Regions from separate parts of the Homo sapiens genome. Here region 2 is linked to region 1. The links come from fine-mapping of genetic effects on gene expression. Tissue or cell type: esophagus mucosa. Region 1 holds a variant in brackets; the other region holds the start of a gene. All regions are shown on one strand. Distances are between the middles of the regions. Region 1 overlaps MED14 (mediator complex subunit 14). Region 2 holds the start of ATP6AP2 (ATPase H+ transporting accessory protein 2).

The links. PIP is the estimated chance that this variant, and not a neighbour inherited with it, causes the effect. A credible set is the group of variants that fine-mapping cannot tell apart.
Region 2: ATP6AP2 starts here. The variant in region 1 is the best candidate, but not a certain one, in a credible set for the expression of ATP6AP2 in esophagus mucosa (GTEx, PIP 0.79).

What each region holds. Positions count from the first base shown.
Region 1 is chrX:40,702,245-40,710,244 of GRCh38, forward strand. MED14 (mediator complex subunit 14) reads right to left here. Exons shown (of 31, transcript NM_004229.4): 9 at 7,735-7,885; 10 at 7,104-7,215; 11 at 1,200-1,325. Among named protein-coding and RNA genes, the nearest start is that of MED14, 29 kb to the right of the region's middle. The variant T/C (reference allele first, on the strand shown) is at 3,534.
Region 2 is chrX:40,575,255-40,587,336 of GRCh38, forward strand. ATP6AP2 (ATPase H+ transporting accessory protein 2) reads left to right here and starts at 5,716. Exons shown (of 9, transcript NM_005765.3): 1 at 5,716-5,848. The coding sequence starts at 5,812. RefSeq lists enhancers at 5,216-5,365, 5,416-5,625 and a silencer at 5,786-6,095.

The DNA.
Region 1 (8,000 bases):
AGACTATTTTCTGTTGCTTTTCTAATTTTTGTGTGTTTAAGTTTTTTATTTATGAGTATGTACTATGTTAATAATCAGAAAAACAGTTAAATATAAGTTTTGTTTTTTTTTTTTTTTTTTGAGACGGAGTCTCGCTCTACCGCCCAGGCTGGAGTGCAGTGGCGCGATCTCGGCTCACTGCAATCTCCGCCTCCCAGGTTCACGCCATTCTCCTGCCTCAGCCTCCCGAGTAGCTGGGACTACAGGCACCCGCCACCACGTCTGGCTAATTTTTTGTGTTTTTAGTAGAGACAGGGTTTCACCGTGTTAGCCAGGATGGTCTCGATCTCCTGACATTGTGATTCGCCCACTTCGGCCTCCCAAAGTGCTGGGATTACAGGCGTTTGAGCCACCACGCCTGGCCTAAATATAAGTTTTTAAGAACAAACAACATTTGCCTTATTTGGAACCCACAGTTAAAGTAATTCATAAATGCGTCATTTAGCCATCATAAATGTGATGTCATTCAAAGTAATTAGTTCAGTTTTCCATGAGCAGCCCATAGAAAAAAAATCTATAGCTATAAAATATAACCAGAAAGCCCTTTATTTTCAACCTTTCTAGCTGAATATTAATTTCAAATAGCAGATGTCCTAATATATTCAAGAACACTGTCCAGTAGCAATACAAAAACACTAAATTCTTATTTCATCATTTCATAACACTGACTCAGTAACAGAACAAGTAAGAAATCAAACTTTAATTTCTACTGTGTTTAGGCCAGAAAAAAAAATCCTTTCCTCCAGGATTCTGTACCTCAAGTCATCTTAGATGTTTCTACTGTCATAAAAATGTTCTTCAGCCACAAATGACATTAGAATTCCTTATTGTGATTTCCATGTCACCCAGTGGTAAAATAGAAACTGAGCTACTGGGATAGATAAGTTAACCTAAAAAACAGCAGCCATCAACATTATTAATTTTGCATAAGGAAACACGAATGTGCGTTATACTGGGAAGTTTAACATCTGCTACAAGAAAATCCAAAGTAGTTAAAACGGCCCCGAGGAACTGACATCAGTCAGAGTTATGGTTTCCATACCCACTTTCAACACTGCATATACCATTCTTTCTAATACCTAATGACAGAAAATGTTTATTTTGTTTTTGTTAAAAATAATTTTTCTTACATTGAATGATTATATCATTTAGTAACTTACCAAGTCCATAAAGCATCAATTGAAACATTCCAGAATGTAAATCTACAAAAATGTGCAGACACTCTGAATTACCACAGGGCTCCAAGATGGGAACAACAAGAGCTGGGAGTGCAGTCTCTATGGAAGCTGAACAATCAAGAATTAAAAATTATTTTTCTATCTGAATATTTTCCAGAAAAATTATTTCTCAATCAATGAGTACAAACAAACCAACTATTGAAGGATCCTAAATGTTAGAGGAAAAACATGATTTTGCAAAATTTGCAATAGTATTATTATGTCAGTTAGCAGCTCAAAAAGGAAAGAATGTAATTTTCAAGGTGACTTGAAACAAACATGCCTGTCTCAAATACTACAGCAAAAAAAATCCAAAGTTTCTTAAAGAGGGTTGAAATAGCTAGTGAAAATTCAACTTCATCAGTGAGCTGAGTTCTAGTTTTACTTTCACTTGGTAATTACTAATAAGCTAATTAATTTTTAAGGATTTTCTCTTTTGTATAATGGAAAGAAAACTAGTTGTTTATAAACAGAATAAATATCTTCTATGGCCTCATGATTTTCAATGCCATTCCTCATAAAAAAGAGGTATTCTGGCAATTAGAGCCCATGTGTTTAAACTAATAAATATTATTGATTACCCAGGAAGAAAAATTTTTTTCAAGTCATTTGTATACTCCATTTCAAGTCACAGATGAATTAAGAACATAGGCAATTGCTAAACACAAATCCCCAAAGCTGACAATATGCCTGATCTAGAGTTTCACAGTATTTCCACGAGGCCCAATTAACTTTTCTCTTAATTCTGCAAGTGACATAATGAAATCCAGTAAACAAGCAAAACACTGAAAACACACTAAGTGCTGATCAGATTGAGGGGTTGTAAAAGGAATATGCTCTTCTTGTTACCAAGTTCCTCTGAAGCTACAGCACAGAAAAAAAAGGCAGATACAGAGGAGAATGGTGATGCAGGTGCTCGGAAGGAGAGGTAACGTGGCAGGCGCAGAGGGGAGTGGCGATGCAGGCCTTTCACCAGGCGTGGCTTCTGCCTGCTTTTTTGTCAAACAAGGAAAATAACATCTTCCCCTCCATGCCACAGGTTGTTAGGAGCAAGAAATGACAAGGCTGTAAAAGTGCTTTAAAAAGCAAAGTGTTTGACAAATGTATATTATCTATATTCCTTTTGAATCAAAGAAACAAACCAAAACCTTTTACTATAAATTTTCAATAATTCAAATGGATGACATTACCATTGGTACTGTCTACACAAATTATCAAACAAATTAATAAAGTAAAAGATTGCAGAAGACATATTTAATTAGAGAGAAATAAATTGCTTTAAAACATAGGGTGAGCATCCTAAACTCCAAAATTTGAAATGCTCCAAAATCCAAAATTTTTTGAGCGCTGACATGATGCTCAAAGGAAATGCTTAATGAAGCATTTTGGATTTCGGATTTTCAGATTTGGGATGCCCAACCAGTAAGTACAAATGCAAATATTCCAAAACCCAAAAAAAATCCGAGATCTGAAATACTTCTGGTCTCAAGCATTTCAGATAAGGGATACTCAACCTGTACATCTAATACATATTTGTATACAAAATGTTTAACATGCAAATCCAGCAGAACTCTGACCTGAAAAAAACAGAACAAAAAGGGCAAAAACAAAAATTTCTTTTACCATATAATTCAGACCAATGTGACAAATTAGTTCAAATCAGTGACATTTTGCTGAACTTACTATGTTAATAAAAAGTTATTACAAATGTGAAACAGAGTTGCTGATTTTTGAAACATTTCCATAGTGTCACAATTCCTGACAGGGTAGGAGTGAATTCTCTAAAGCAAAACCATTTCTAAAGCGTGGCAACAGAGTAAAACTAGTTCTGGGAATTGGGGTAACAATTATAATTTCAATCTAATTACCACAATTGAGTATTCTTAGAAAAATAGGGCATCAGAGAAGAATACAGATAACACAGTTCAAAAGACAAGAAATACTCTGATACAAATCGATGTACAATTTTTTGACTACCAATGTCCATATTTTTCTTTACAGAAAATAAAATACACAATGCCCTAAAGCATTTAAAGGCAACAGGTTTTAGGTATACAAAAATGGGGAAACTTGCAAAGAAAATAAAGAAGAGGGAATTAAAAGCAGTGTAAGATGACAGGACTTGCTGCTATTTCGTCCTGCCAGAACATATATATATCTCCTTTTATTTCTATCATTTATTGAGAACAAGATGAGAATGGATAACAGACAGAATATAAAGTGTGAAGAGTGAAGAGCGGCAACTAAGCTCAATTAGGAATGGCTGTGTGTGGTTCA[T/C]AGCTTCCAAACTGATCATGATGCCCTGATTATAAGTGCTGAAGGGTAGAGTACAACATAAGGGAGCAGCACCCTGGCTTTCAAGAGTTAGGCAATGCTGCCAACTGGGCCATATCTCAAGTTACCTTTAGTACCTTGCACTGCTTTTTTGGAACTTATCTCCAAAGTCCTGCCTCCTCTCCCCTAAACCATTTCTACCCCCACGAAACCACATGCCTGAGCTGCTCAAAACCTGAAGTCTATGCCTTCCCCTAGCCTTCCCTTGAAATGCTCCACTCTCTGAGCTACTCATTTCCTTGGGTTATTCCAGTTAGGTGTTAGAAGAAAAGCCAGCTGATTTAAGGGTGACTGCGCTAAGGGATTCTAAGAATAGACTATGTAGTCCCTCATCCCAGTAAGGATCTTAATAAAGCATGCTCGCCCATCACAAAAAAGGATCAAGTAAGACTACATGGAGAGTATAAATGCATGCACATGAATTTAAAGAACAAGTTAAAGCACATGCCCTAAGATGGTGGGTCGGCAGACCCTTTCCTCTAGCAGTCCTCATTTCTAGAACTGTCCTGATTAAAGCAGAACTGAGGAGATCAACCCCGCATGCAAGCTTCTCCCTTCCTTCCAAATTATAGTCCCTAAGTCACCCTTCTCTAACACCTGGGACTCTACAAAACACCTAGGGCTTGAAAACCACTGGTGTAGCACATTCCTACTAGAGTTTAAGATCTAGGAAGAGCCTGGACTATTATAATATCCTCAAATTTCAGATGAGGAGAATGGCCCAAATAGTGTAAATGACTTGTTCAAGAGCAGACAGCTGAACTCAGATCTCTAACATTTCTACAAAAAGGAATTTTACACTTGGGTTCTGAAGATTTCTCTAAATTTCTCTTTAGAAATCTTCAGAACCTAGGTGAACAGCACACAAAACCATTCCTATGTAAACGTATGCTTTGAGTTTATTTTTCAAAGTAATTTAACTATCCCTTGGCAATCATAGTTTTTTGTTTCTGTTTTTTAACTTACTAAGTTTTTGTTCTGTTTTTTAACTTACTAAGCCTTGCTTACAGATGATACTAAAGTAAACCAGAGCCTATCAAAAGATTACAAACTCCCTATTTTCTGGAATCTCAACAAACGAAGTTTTGAAAAATTAGAAAAATTAAGATTGCAAAATACTTAAAGTCTTCTTTAAGAACAAAAGAGTTGGACATGGTGGTTCATGCTTGTAATCCCAGCACTTTGGGAGGCCAATGTGGTAGGATTGCTTGAGCCCAGGAGCATAAGACCAGCCTGTTCAGCAGGCCATGGACTTAAAATAGATACATAGATGGATAGATAGATAGATAGATAGATAGATAGATAGATAGATAGATAGAGACCAGCCTGGGCAACACAGTGAGACTCCATTTCTTAAAAAAGAACAAAAGGGGAATTTCAACAAGGGTGACAAGACAATTAAACAGGAGAAAATAGTCTTCAACAAATGTTACTGAGATAACTGCATATCCTCACGTAAAAGAATGCAAACAATAACAAGTATTGGTGAGGATGTGGAGAAAATGAAACCTTCCCACATTGCTGGTTAGATTGTAAAGTGGTGTTAAACACGTCAAAAGGTTAAACAGTTACAAGACCCGGCCATTACACTCCTAGGTGTACAGCCAAGAGAAATGAAAACTTACGTCCACATAAAAACTTGGGCATGAATGTTCATAGCAGCATTATCCACAATAGCCAAAAAAGAAAAACAACCCCAATGTTCAACAATGATGAATGGATAAACAAAAGATGGTATAGCCATACAATGGATTATTTGACAATAAAAGTGAATGAAGTATTGAAACATGCTGTGAACCTCAAAAAAAATGTGTTAAAAACAGTATGTAAGAGACCACACATTATGATTCCATTTATATGAAATGTCCAAATAGGCAAATCTATAGAGTTAGAAAGTAGATTAATGATTGCCAAAAGGGAGGCAGGAAGGGAGAGGAGTGAATGGGTTGTGACTGCTAATGGGTACACGGTTTCTTTCTGGGATGATTAAAATGTTCTAAAATCAAATTGTGGTGATAGTTGCACAACTCTTTCAGTAAAAACCATTGAATGAGGTAATTATATGTGAATTATATCTCAATAAAGCTGTTAAGAAAAAAAGACGAAAAGGCAGTGGTGGTTAGTAGCCTTTCTAATTCCAGTGAGAGTTTCAATTATACTTTCCAATCATAATTTTTAGGTCTGTATTTAACATCTTTGCTTGAGGGATTAAAGGGGAGGGCCTTCTACTGAAGCTTTTAATTAAATTAAGATAATGAAGTACTGATAAAGCTAATGTTAAACCCTGATAGGGCTAATGGACAGGCACCCCCAAGACACATCTAACCAATACATTCACCAAATTTCTGGCAGATCCTTTATTTCTTTTTTAAGGCCCATATTTGCATTTTTGTTAAGTTAGGCTGCCCCTCTCCTTAGTCTCTTTAAAAATATAAGCTAATGCTTTGGTTTATCTTAGATCCCCTCTTTCACCTCTATCTTTTCACTTTCCTTGAATGAGTATGTATTCTAAATACACACTTATTTTTCTAACTTTCTGTCTTTCCTTCAGGCAATTTTTTAAAATCTATTTCTGTCAAAGTGATTTTAATCCAGAGTTACTAGTACATACCTAAGAAGCTGCTTCTTTAAGTATAATGGATTGAGCTGAGCTCTGTGATGACAAAAGGCAGCACCTTCGTTACTAGCACTATTAAGACTTCCTACTTATAAGGCACTTCACTTACGTCATCTAACTTAATTAAAGACTGTGCACTGTGGGCACAAGGTAATTATGGCCAAAAACAATTGGGGCAGGGATAGTAAATATGCCCATTATGATGTTGCGAACCTATATTCCCAGAATGAAAGGGTTTACTTTCTAAATGACTGTCCCTCAAAGCTCTGAATATACTTACTAGGTAATTAAACTTGGAAGATTTTTCACTATGTCCATGTATCTGCATTCCTTATTTGAACTGTTAATAATTTTTAAAAATTTTTTAAAAAGACAAGGGATGAATTCTGCTTCACTCAAAGGGGCATATTTTACAAGTATATTATAAATATTTGGAATGCTGTTTTATCACTAGAAAAAAGTTTAAAAATAAGGTTCATATTAAAATGTTAGCTCATGTTTCATAAAGTTTTTCTTTTTTATTTAAAAAATTTTATAAATAGAGACGGGGTCTCATTTTTTGCCCTGGCTTGTCTAAAGCTCCTGGCCTCAAGTGATCCTTACATCTCGGCCTCCCAAAGTGCTGGTATTACAGGTGTGAGCCACCATGCCCAGCCCCATTTCATAAAGTTTTAAGGAAATCCAATACACAAATATTTCAAAAATAAGGCCAAGCTAAATAAGTAACAAGGGAAAAATTAGCATAAGTTTGGCAGATCACAAGTTAAAATGCAGAAATACCAGCTTCCACAATAAAAGCAAAATATCAAGAAAAAGTCATATTAAGATTCTCATCAAATAAAACTGGATTCTAGTTTAAACAAAAGAAAAACAAATGTCAATTTAAAAGAACCTACAGTTTTCATTGGCATTGAAGCCTCTAAGAATGGCCTTCAGTTCTTGGAGCTTCTGATGAGCTCTTGCATGGACACTGTCAATCAGGAGTTTTTCTATTGATAAGTGGTCGATCTGCATAAATAAGAACAACAAATTCAAATGTGCAATTTAAACATTTTTACTTTAAAAGCCCAAGAGTAGATTACTGTGCTTCAAAATATTTCCTTTTGGAATCACACTGATTAAGTGTTAACCCTAATAGAAAGCAAACTTAAAGTTAAAAATTAACTAATATGGTATTGAGTTAAAAATTAACTTACAATTGATAGCTTAAAAACTATAGTTAACATTTTGGTAAGTAATAGGAGAAGATATTACAAATCAGTTATGGTGCTCTAATGCCAGACCTTAAAATTAAAATGGTATCTGATCTAAATTATAAAATATGAAAGAATATCTTAAAAATTATATATTATAGTATCAGATGTTTTAAAAAAACAAATGTAAGAAGTGTAACATTTACTTAAAATAAGTTTCATAAAAGGTTTTAGGAAGAATTAGATATTTTTAAAAATTTGTGCTAAGAGTTTAAGGATAAATGGCAAGTTACATTCATTTAAACCAATATGAAAATATATTGAGATCTTTTACCTTCATGGCTCTTTCTACTAATTTGGAATCAGAAGCTGGCAAAGGAGGATCGTGAAAAATCTGTAAAGGCTTGGAGACATCATTCTCATCAATTTTAATTGTAACTTTGTGAACAGATGCTGTTCCAGTTTTTCTCCCAAGAACCTGTTGACTAAAGAAAAAAATGAAATGAAGAATTTTTTTCAACACAGTCTGTTAACTTCTAGAATAAAATAGAGACAATCCATTGTGCAGTTTAGCCACAGCCTGGAATACGGCAGGCCCCC
Region 2 (12,082 bases), 120 kb before region 1:
TAATAATAATAATAATAATAATAATAATAATAACAATAATTTTTAAAGAAGAGGAGGTTGAGTTATAAGAATTCTGGGCCATCACACATAGTTCTAAATCAGGGGATGCAGCTGAGTCTCCCCACGGATGAGAAAATAATTTTAGAGCTGGCAGGAATTGCAGGCACATTTGGTCTTTCCTGTCTACTTGTCTCTGGATGTTTGCTTTGCTCCTCTCTTTCTGCAGCCCAGCTTCTCCACCTCTGAGTATGTGGCAAAAGATGGTAATTCATAGGTCTCCCTGTTCAACTGTTATACAAGAATCACTAGCATCTTTTGGCCTCAATCCCAGAATTCTAGGATAGAGAAGCCCATTGGCCCAGTCTGGGTCATGTGACCACTCCTGCTTTAGTCTGCCAGGGATGTGGACTCATAAAGTACAGACAGGGCCGGGCACAGTGGCTCATGCCTTTAATCCCAGCACTTTGGGAGGCCAAGGCGAGTGGATCACTTGAGGCCAGGAGTTCAAGACCATCCTGGCCAACATGGTGAAACCCCATCTCTACCAAAAGTACAAAAATTAGCTGGGTGTGGTGGCATGTGCCTGTAATCCTAGCTACTCAGGAGGCTGGGGCAGGAGAATCGCTTGAACCCGGGAGGCGGAGGTTGCAGTGAGCTGAGATTGCGCCACTGTACTCCAGCCTGGGCAACAGAGCAAGAGTCCGCCTCAAAAAAAAAAAAAAAAAAAAAAGGTACAGACAGGACCGTAGAGGTCATGGAAACGGTGGGAAGCTATCATAAATGGCAAGGTGTGGTCCTTGTAGTCATCCCCAATATATGGTTTATTACAGTGCCCTGTCAGTCTGAAACAAATATTCAGTCTGCTTCGTGTGTACGTTCCAGATGTGGACATGGATACAACAGAGCTTAATGCATTAAATATTTGCTCTGATTGTATACTCACCAAGTCTATTCTGACTAATTCAAAGAGTCCTATGTCACTTGCATTTTTGGAGAGAAAACACTAGCCAGGTTGACATGAATATGCAGACTACTACATACTTATATATCTCACTGTAAATGAACAAACTGCTGTTCGCAACATTAAGATCTTATGAGTTTATTATTTTGGGTTGATGTCACCCAGTTGGATTAACTCTCGGATGCTGATAGAACTGGGATTCTCAGGCTGGAAGGCCAAAGCCTGGCTTTTGCCTCATAGTGAATTCCCACAGGAGATAGCATCTCTACTATCTCTCGGAAGACAGCCATTAGCATGCCAACCACAACACTGGCCTTTCTTTGGAAACTTCCACACTCACTGAAGACATGTTTTGTAAACACAAGATTTTGCAAACATAATTTGAAACCACATACAAATAATTTCTACCAAGTCAAAAAGAAGTGCTCCTTCTCAAGACTCAAAAAAAGCAAACTAGATTTTTAAAACCTTTCTACTGGAAAATACAGCACACAAGTGAACATACAATATCAATGCTCAGAATATGGATAATCACAAAATGAACACTAGTGTGACAACCACCACCACCATTCAGAAATGACCAGCACCCCTAAATACTTCTCCATGTCTCTTTCAGACATATCTTTCTCCCCTCCACCCTGGAGGTAATCACTGTTCTAATTTTTTATGGTAACCATTTCCTTGCTTTTCTTTAAACTTTTGTCATCTATGCTGGATTCTTTAAAAATATAGTTTCTGGGTTTTTTTTTTTTTTTTTTTTTTTTTTGGAGATAGCGTTGCCCTCTGTCACCCAGGCTGGAGTGCAATGATGAGATCTTGACTTACTGCAGTCTCAACCTCCTGGGTTCAAGTGATCCTCCTGTCTCAGCCTCCCCAGTAGCTGGGACTACAGGTATGCGCTACCATGCCTGGCTAATTTTTTTTTCTTTTGAAACAGGGTCTCACTTTGTCGCCCAGGCTAAATTGCAGTGGCACAAGCTTGACTCACTGCAACCTCCGCCTCCCAGGTTCAAGCGATTCTCCCGCCTTGGCCTCCCGAGTAGCTAGGACTACAGGCACGTACCACCATACCTGGCTAATTTTTGTATTTTTTGGTAGTGATGGGGTTTCACCATGTTGACTAGGCTGGTCTTGAACTCCTGACCTCAAGTGATCCACTCGCCTAGGCCTCCCAAACTGCTGGGATTACAGGTGTGAGCCACCGCGCCCAGCCCAGACTTTCCTTGTTTTTGATGACTTCTGAGGAGCAGCAGTCAGATATTTTGTAGAATGCCCCTCTATTGGCATTTATCTGATGTTTTTCTCATGATTACACTGGGGTTATGGGTATGGGGGAGGAAGATCATAGAGGTGAAGTGCCTGCCATTATCATTGTATCACATCAAGGGCACACACTGTCAACATGACCGATCACTGTTGGTGTTGACCTTGATCACATCGCCTAGATAGTATTTGTTGGGTTTTTGCACTGCAAAGCTGCTCTCCCCTCCCCCACACCTTTCCATAGTGTATATAGTACCTTTTGAAGAACATAAATTCTTAATTTTAACTGCATGGTCTGGGAGAGGGGCATGATCTTCGCCTCCACAGGGCTCCTGGATGGGATGTCTCATTTGCAGGGATCAGCTCATGTTATCGCGCTCACTCCGGGATCACTCAGAACTCACTGCTGGACTTAATTGGGGGACGAGGGCGAGACTTAAGGAAGCAAATGGAATTATGTATTCTTTCAAATCTTGCATCTGGACCTCTAGTTTTGAAACTCAAGAGCCAAGAATTTGACATTTGTTTTCAGGTTCTCCTGAGAGTCCTCCCCTCAGGGCAACGGATGGCTGCAGTCTTGCCTATTTGGCCTGTGGGGAGGGTGGAGAAAGGCTTCTTTTAGGCTAACAAATGGGGTCATAACTTCAAATATTGTATTACCCTGCTACACACATATCCATCTCTAAATGCTTCAGTGGAAAAGTTAACCGCACATCACCAGTTGTTTACTGAGCGCTAAAGATTGAATCAGCAGGGCTGCATTCACGAAGCAGAACTGCTGACGATTCAGAATATGACCTTGAGTACATATGCCCTTCCCTAGGCTTCAATCTCTCAATCTATGAAACAAGGAGAGGGCTTCCGACAATGTTTATCTTGCTAAATTCCAAGGTTGTAGAGAACAACAATGCCCCTTTGCAACCTCAGGTGAAAAGGGCCCTTAGGTGTAAAGAATACACTATTCGCTGTTAGCTCAAAAGGGGATGTTATTTCTCAAGACATAAATGGATTGTGAAAGATTGTGAGGTTTTCTGGGGGAATGGGGGGGTGGGGACTTATTTTATATTCCAGTCTATTTACAAATTTTTTCATCTTCCTCAAATTCAAAGAAATAAGAATGTACTAGAAGTCTTAAGAACAGAAACATTCACTCCTTTCCCTGTTTCCTTAAGCTGGATGAAATGGCAGGAGGTCTGCTCCACTTTTAGCTGATTATGTCCCTAAATAAGGTTTAGATAAGTTCTTGCAGGGCCTGTGATTCAAAACCTGTTCTAAGACATGCAGGGAGATGGACAAAGAATTTTAGTTGGTGTGAAAAGATTGTGAATTTATCATGCTTAAAAATGAATTTTTAAAAATGATTAATTTTTTTCCGCCGGGAGCAGTGGCTCACGCCTGTAATCTCAGCACTTTGGGAGGCTTTAGTGGGTGGATCGCCTGAGGTCAGGAGTTCGAGACCAGCCTGGCCAACATGGTGAAACCCCGTCTCTACTAAAAATACAAAAATTAGCCGGGCGTGGTGGTTGGCGCCTGTAATCCCAACTACTTGGGAAGCTGAGGCAGGAGAATTGCTTGAACTCGGGAGTTGGAGGTTGCAGTGAGCTGAGATCGCACCACTGCACTCCAGCCTGGGCAACAAGAGGGAAACTTCGTCTCAACAACAACAAAAAAAGTGATTAATTTTTTTCGAGTCAGTCACATTAGAGTGGATGTTTTGGAGGGGTGCTTTAGACATTTTGGTTCTAATAATTTCACATGCCTGATGGAAAAATCTCTCTTCTCCCTTTCAGAGTTCTCTAAAGTCCCATTTGTACAAATTCTCCTCTAGAGGAAAAGCAAGTTTGAGAGTTTCCTGTTTCTTGACGTTAGGTGAGGAAATCGACTCTGTTCCCTAAATTTGAGAGTGGCTTTGGTAAGCATAGTGTGTTCTAGAAAGTTCAAACTATTTAGTGAGTGTTTCTCTTTTTTTGCTTTCTTTATTTTCTAATAATAAAAAGACAGGGCCTCACTATGTTATCCAGGCTGGTTTTCAACTCCTGGTGTCAAAGGATCTTCCCACCTCGGCCTCTCAAAGCGCTGGGATTACAGGTGTGAGCCACCACACCTGGCCTCGAGAGTGTCTTTCTGATTCAGTTTTCAGTTGGGCAAGGTTTTCCTAGGGTGGGTCTGCTACCTGGGGAACTCCTGGGGTCACTGTTTTTAACTCGCTCTCATTTTTTCATCCTCAGGAAACTCCAAGAAGAAAATGGGACTGGAAACTGAAGAAACAGTAAGGCATTCCCCCCCTCCCCCCCGCCAATAAGTCTGTCTTACATTTGTGCAGTAAATCATGCTCAAACGCCTTCAATGGCTTAGTGTAGGTCTCTTATGTACAATTTAAAATCCTCAATAAATGTGCCTAACTGAAAGTTTTAGCTCTGTGCCTCCTCTCTCATATAATCTCTTATTTGATTACTGATGCTTAACCTGACGGGGCTTTCTCCCCACCTTAACTACAGTTTTCACTGGAACAATCTCCCCATCTCCTATCCTTGGATATGAAATCATTTCCACCTTTCAAGGTCATCAGCTGGGGCGTCATTTTCTACCTACAGACGCTATAGTGTGTCCCTTCTTGCCTCACATCATAGGCAAAAGACTATGAACTGCGGGAGGGGAGGAGCCTGGTCTAATTACTATGTCTAGCCTTCATACATCCTCATAGAACACCTTGCCCAGATTGGAAACTGAGTGAATGGACAAATTAAGTAATTAATTAACTTTCTGTCCCATGACTCCTTGTAGATTGGAAAGTCTTTGGAGGTAGAGTTGCCAGACTTAGCGAATCAAAATATAGGATACCCAGTTATATTTGAATTTCAGATAACCAGTAATACTTCTTTTAATACAAGTATGTCCCATAAATTAATTGCGACATAATAACAAATAATCGTTGTTTACATGAAATTCAAATTTAACTGGGCGCCCTGTATTTTATCTGGCACCACTATGTGGAAGGCAGGGGTTCCCCGTTGCGCCTGGCTTCTTCCCAGTAGGTGCTCGGCGTCTGTATACTTGTTAGAGCGAAACCCCAACCAGCCCCGCCTTTCACAGCTGGCGTCCGTAGCCGGGCGGAGGCACACGACCAGGAAAGACAGACACCCTGGTTGGAGACCGTCGCTCGAGACTGGCAGAAAGATCTGCACTCGGGAGGCACCCTCACCCCGTGGGCTCCGGGACCCCTCGACTAGCTCCATCACCCATTCCGACTACCCGCCCTACGCTCCACCTCTTGACCCGTCATCACCGACCGGGGGGCGGGACTGCCCGACTTTTCAATCGCTGCCTACCATTGGTAGAACTCTCCATCCGTTACTTTAAGTCCCGCCTATCAGGCTGTCGCTTCCCAGGTTACGTCCCTTCCGTAGGCCGCGGCGTAACTGGTGATTGGTGGAGAAAGCGGCAGCTGTCCCAGCGGAAGCGACGAAGGGACGGGACCCGGGAGCCTGGACGAGTCCGAGCGCGTCACCTCCTCACGCTGCGGCTGTCGCCCGTGTCCCGCCGGCCCGTTCCGTGTCGCCCCGCAGTGCTGCGGCCGCCGCGGCACCATGGCTGTGTTTGTCGTGCTCCTGGCGTTGGTGGCGGGTGAGGAGCCGGGGGCCGGCAGGACGTGCCTGGGGAGGTCCTGCGCCGCGGGGCTTGGGGGTCGGGGGCGGCCGCGGGCGAGTAGCTGCGAGGCAGGTGCCGCAGTGCGGTCCGTCAGCGGCGGCCTCGCCTCAGCCGCGTCCCCGTCAGCATCTTCTCTGGATCGGCCGTGGCGGCGCGGCCTCACGGGCCGCCGGGGCCGGGGCTGGGCTGCGTAGGGGGCCCCTGAGCCTGCCTCCACCCTCCACTTTGAGGGCGGCGCGTCCGGCCGGCTTCTTGCGCCTGAAAAGGCCCTTCAGAGTACGGAGATGCATTTCTCAGTGAACTGGGATTGAGTCGCAGCCCGCTGCGAAGAAGAGAAGGCAGACTTTTTAGCTGCCACTGGCTGCCACGATGTTTTTGCATTTGTATGGTGCCTTCATTTCTAGTGGTTGTCATCAGTAATTGCTGAAATCCCTGCCCCTCCCTTCCCTTATGTATATTTCCGGATGCAAAAGTTGAGATGGAGTCATTATTTTTATATGACTTATATTTCTTAAGGCGAATACAAAGCACCTCTCAATAGTTTGTCAGAGTTCCAAATTTTAAGGATTTGGAAACAGGATGTGAGTCGCATTTTTAGGGTCACATGTCAATAAATGGTAGCTTTCTGAGTAGAACCTAGATTCCTAAGCATTCAGCAAGAGGTGAAGAAATCAGCTAATACGTGGCCTCTTACTGCATATCATGTGGTAATGTATTTCATTTGACAGCAGTCCTTAGAGGGCATCATCTTTGTTTTGCAGGGTGATCAACCTAAATAAATTACCCAACACTAAACAGGTTGGGTGCTGGATTTGATTTCAGATGAGGTGGTGCCAGCGCATCGGCCTTTTCCATTATATATGTTGTGTTGCACAAGTAACGCTATTACTGTGTGAGAATGTGGGAGTGATGGGGACTGAGACTGGAGGCACAGACAGTAGTGAACAAGAGGCCAAGTTGAGAACGGCTTGGAGGAATGGGTGCTCTGATCTCAGTGTGTCAGTTTAAAACCTATGGGAGGCCGGGCGCGGTGGTTCACGCCTGTAATCCCGGCACTTTGGGAGGCCGAAGCAGGCAGATCACCTGAGGTCAGGAGTTTGAGACCAGCCTGGCCAACAAGGCAAAACGCCATCTCTACTGCAAATATAAAAATTAGCCGGGTGTGTTGGGGCACACCTGTAATCCCAGCTACTCAGGAGGCTGAGGTACGAGAATCGCTTGAGCCCGGGAGGCGGAGGTTGCAGTGAGCCGAGATCGCGCCATTGCACTCCAGCCTGGGCGATAGAGCCAGACCTTGTCTCAGAAGCAAAAACAAACATACAAACAAACCAAAAACCTATGTGAGGTGTTGGGAGGTCCTGCTTGTGGAATGGCGATTTAATTCTGCACCAGTATGCTCTTGAAATCTGCAGATCTCTGTCCCTAGAGGTGCGGGGGTTTTGTGTGTTAATGATAGTTACGTTGTATCCATGCCCCAAACGTTTTCGAGTTCTTTGTTTCTTTCTTCTGTTTCTGGCTCTGGAAAGGTCTTTCTGATCTACTGAGATACTTTGAGGGAATTAATTTTAATTCAGTTTTTGAAATTTTAAAAATATTCCCTTTGATCCTGTGGTTTAACTGAACATCTATTGAGATTCCATGTTTTAATATTTTGACTGATATTATTTTGATTCAGTGAGGTATAGGCTTTTTTGTTTTGGGTCTGAGATAAAATAATTGCTTCTGCACATGGTTTGAACATGTTTTCCTTACTAGCATAGCCGAGTTCATACAGAACAAGAACCTGATCCTGTCAGCTTCTGAATTGCTCAGTCTTGTCAGATGAGGTTCAGTTATTATTTTCCACAATGACTAAATGTGATGTAGTGGAAAACATCTTTAAGAGCTCTGACTTCTCTATTCCAGGCAGAAACAAAAATAGAAATCCTTTAAAACAGTGTTGCCAAACTAGAGGGAGAACTAGGGACCTAGAGAGAGAGGAAGGGAACTAGGATTTTGAATACCATATCATGAGGCGTATTTGATAAAATTCAGATATTTAGCCTGGAGAAGAAAGGCCAAGGGTGAACACATGGAATTTGAAGTGATGTCATGTAGAAGAGGGAGATAGGATCCATTTTTTTATTATTATTGATTCCATCCACCATTCGTAGACGATAATAGCACAGTATAGTGGAGTTCCTAGAGGGAAGGACACTTAGCCCAGACTGGGGAGGCTGAGGAAAATTTCCCATGGGAGGTGCCTCCCAGGGCTAATGTGTTGAAAAGTTGGGGTGGGAAGAAAAGGTATTTGAAACAGAACAGCATGTGTAAAAGCATGGCGATGTGAGAGCAAAGGGGCAAGTAGTTTGGTGGGGCTGAAATGTACAGGATTAAGTTGGGGAGATACCAGAAATAAGGCTGATGAGGTTTCTTGGGTGTTAATGCTTTGGGTTTTGCCTCAGAGTCTCTGGGCAGTGAGAGAAGGCATTTAAGCAGAAGGGTGAATGATCAGATCTGTATTTTGAAGCAGTTATGGGAAAGGCTGGATTAGAGAGTGGCATGACAAGGGTCATAAGGCACCCAATTCTAGCAAACCTGGAGAGGGCCTGAAGAGTGTGCCCTGGACATAGAGGGGAAAGGATTTGTGAGATAAGAAAAAAAGATGAAATTCAGTGGCTAATTAGCTGTGTTGCTGAGGAAGATTTAAAGACGACTGATTCCAGCCACTGGGTGGAAGGAAGGTGGTATCATCCTTCAAGATAGAATACAGGAGAAGTGTGTGGAAAGATGGTGAATTGGGTGTGTTTTTGGTGTTTGCAGCCTTAGGAGTAGTTGGGCTCAGCCTGGGAGAGATGTAGAATAGGAAAGCAGTAAGAGTCAAGAATGGAGCCCTCAGATCTCCAAAGTGGAGTATGCTAGGTGATCCATTTGGATGCCAGATGAATGTACTAGAAATTCCATTTATATCCTTTTTGTTTTTGTTTTTGAGACAGGGTCTCACTCCGTCACCCAGGCTGGAGTGCACTGGTGTGATCACAGCTCACTGCAGCCTCGACCACCCAGGCTCAAGCGATTCTCCCACCTCAGCCTCCCTAGTAGCTGGGACCACAGGCGCATGCCACCATACCCAGCTAATTTTTTGTTTGTTTTTGTAGAGATGAGGTCTCAAACTCTTGGGCTCAAGTGATCCTCCTCCTCAGCCTCCCAAAGTGCTGGGATTACACGCAGGTGTGAGCCATCGCACCCAGCCTCTATCTTTTTTTTTTTTTTTTTCCTTTTTTGAGACAGAGTCTTGCTCTGTCACCCAGGCTGAAGTGCAGTGGCACGATCTCGGCTCACTACAACCTCCGCCTCTGGGGTTCAAGTGATTCTTGTCCCTCAGCCTCCCAAGTAGCTGGGACTACTCTTGTTGCCCAGGCTGGAATGCAATGGCATGATCTTGGCTCACTGCAAGCTCCACCTTCCGGGTTCAAGTGATTCTCCTGCCTCAGTCTCCCGAGTAGCTAGGATTACAGGCATGCACCACCATGCCTGGCTAATTTTGTATTTTTTTAGTGGAGACGGGGTTTCTCCATGTTGGTCAGGCTGGTCTTGAACTCCCAACCTCAGGTGCTCTGCCTCTTGAGTAGCTGGGACTACAGGCATGCACCACCACATCTGTCTAACTTGTGTATTTTTTTGGTAGAGACGGGGTTTCACTATGTTCACCAGACTGGTCTCAAACTCCTGACCTCAAATGATCTGCCTGCCTCAGCCTCTGAAAGTGCTGGGATTACAGGCATGAGCCACCACACCTGGCCTCATTTTTGTATTTTTAGTAGAGATGAGGTTTCGCCATTATGGCCAGGCTGGTCTTGAACTCTTGGCCTCAAGTGATCCGCCTGTCTTGGCCTCCCAAAGTGCTGGGATTACAGGTGTGAGCCATCATGCCTGGCCTATTTTTATCTTATCTCTTTTTGAATAATAATGGTCAGGTATTTTGTAGACTGTCCCTCAATTTGGGTTTATCTGATGTTTTCTCATTATTAGATTGGGAAAAATACTACACAGGTATCTCATCCTTTTAAAAACTTTTATTTTTGTATGCTTTGTAATATAGCACAAATCAAATACATAATCTATTACTATAGTAGAAGTATATACTTTACATGGAGAGGATGAGAGGGACAGAGAGAAGAAAGAAGGGCTACTTTCCAATTTTGGGCTGACAGGGTTGAAATCTAAAAAGTTTGGCTACCACTGCTTTAAAGGACAGGAAGGGAAAGAAACAGAGGAGAAGCAGCCAAAGGGATTGCAAGGAAAACCAGGAGCCGTGGCTGCATGAAGACCAAAGCAGGGGCTTTTCAAGGAGGGAGTTGCCAGTATCAAATGCTTTGGGAAGTTAGATAAAATTAAGGGATGGAAATTGCCTTTTGAGTTTGGGGAGTCGTTTCAGTGGCATGGTGGGCTTGGAAGGTGTGGGCGGCCAGGTGGGGTGGCTCACGCCTGTAATCCCAGCACTTTGGGAGGCCGAGGCAGGCGGATTGTTTGAGGTCAGGAGTTCGAGACCAGTCTGGCCAACGTAGTGAAACCCTGTCTCTACCAAAAAAATACACAAGTTAGCCAGACGTGGTGGTGCGTGCCTGTAGTCCCAGCCACTCAGGAGTCTGAGGCAGGAGAATCTCTTGAACCTGGGAGGTGGAGGTTGCGGTGAGCTGAGATCCTTACCACTGCACTCCAACCTGGGTGACAGCAAGACCCTGTCTCAAAAAATAAAAATAAAAAAAATTTTTAAAATTTTGTGGGTTAAGTAGTAAACTTAAAATGAAGTATAGAAGCAAACGGTGGTTGACTGCTCTTCCTGGATTCTTCCTCTGAAGGGGAGCAAGGCTGGTAGCTGGTGGAGACTGGTAGGACCAAAGGAGGTTTTTTATGGTTTTAGTTATAGAATGGGAGTGCCTTGAGCGTATTTTTATGCTGAAGTGAAAGGGCCAGTGGAGAGGGAAAAAACTGGTGGTTTGAAGTGTGACTTCATTCATTCATTAACTCAACAAGTACTTATTGAGCACCAATGTGTCGGGCTCTGTTCTCAGCCCTGGGGATAGTGTGTGAACAAGACGCACTGAAATCCCCGCCTTCATGGAGCTTGTATTCTATAGGGCCATCTTTTGATGGCTATTACCATATAGCCACCTCACTCCTGATGTGTTGTCTGTCCTAGAAGAGTGGCTTCCTTAACAAACAGTGAAGGAACAAAGGTCCCTAAAAAGACTGAACACAGGATTGTCTTAGTCTGGAGGAGGGACATCCCTGCCCTCATGTCTGGAGGGAGAGGAGTTACAGATAGGGGCTTATGCAGATAAATTTGTGGTGGGGAGAGGAAGCAGGTAGCTCAAGAAATTCCTCTGTTTTCTCTGTGAAGCTGGAGATGAGGTTATCTGGTGAGACTGAGTTGGGGAGTGATAGCATAGGAAGTTGAAAGTTAGGAAGCCCATTTCAGTTCAGTACAAGGAAAAACTTTTCAAAGGACTAGAATGTTAGGAAAATGGAGCCAGTTGCTGGCAAATGTAGTTCGTATATTGAGGTGGTGTCCCCATCACTGGTAGTATTGAAATAGAGGAGGGGTGACTTTCTGCCAGGTATCCCTGAGACATGCTTATACTTATAATAAGCAGAAGTTTGGACAAATGACCTTCCTCTGTATAGGAGTCCCTGACTCTAAGGTTTTCTAAAGCTCTGGGCTTCTGAAGGACTGTTGTACAGGCATGGAAGTTGAAACTACGAAGCTGGGGCAAAGTTATTTGGTATAGGTTTGCCAGAATTGAATGAGTAGGGCCGTGTCTCAAAACAAGGGTATCTCCAAATCAAAATATGGTTTTTTAAATGTGTATGGTACCTGGGGCTGGGCGCGGTGGCTCACGCCTGTAATCCCAGCACATAGGGAGGCTGAGGCGGGCCGATCACTTGAGGTCAGGAGTTTGAGACCAGCTTGGCTAACATGGTGTCACCCTGTCTCTACTGAAAATACAAAATTTAGCCAGGCATGGTGGCACACACCTGTAATCCCAGCTACTTGGGAGGCTGAGGCAGGAGAATTGCTTGAACCTGGCAGGCAGAGGTTGCAGTGAGCCAATATTGTGCCACTGCACTCCAGCCTAGGCGACAGTGTGAGACTCTGTCTCAAAACAAACAAACAAAATATGTGTATGGTTCTTGGGAAGCATAGGTCTCTTGGTTCCCCATTTTTCT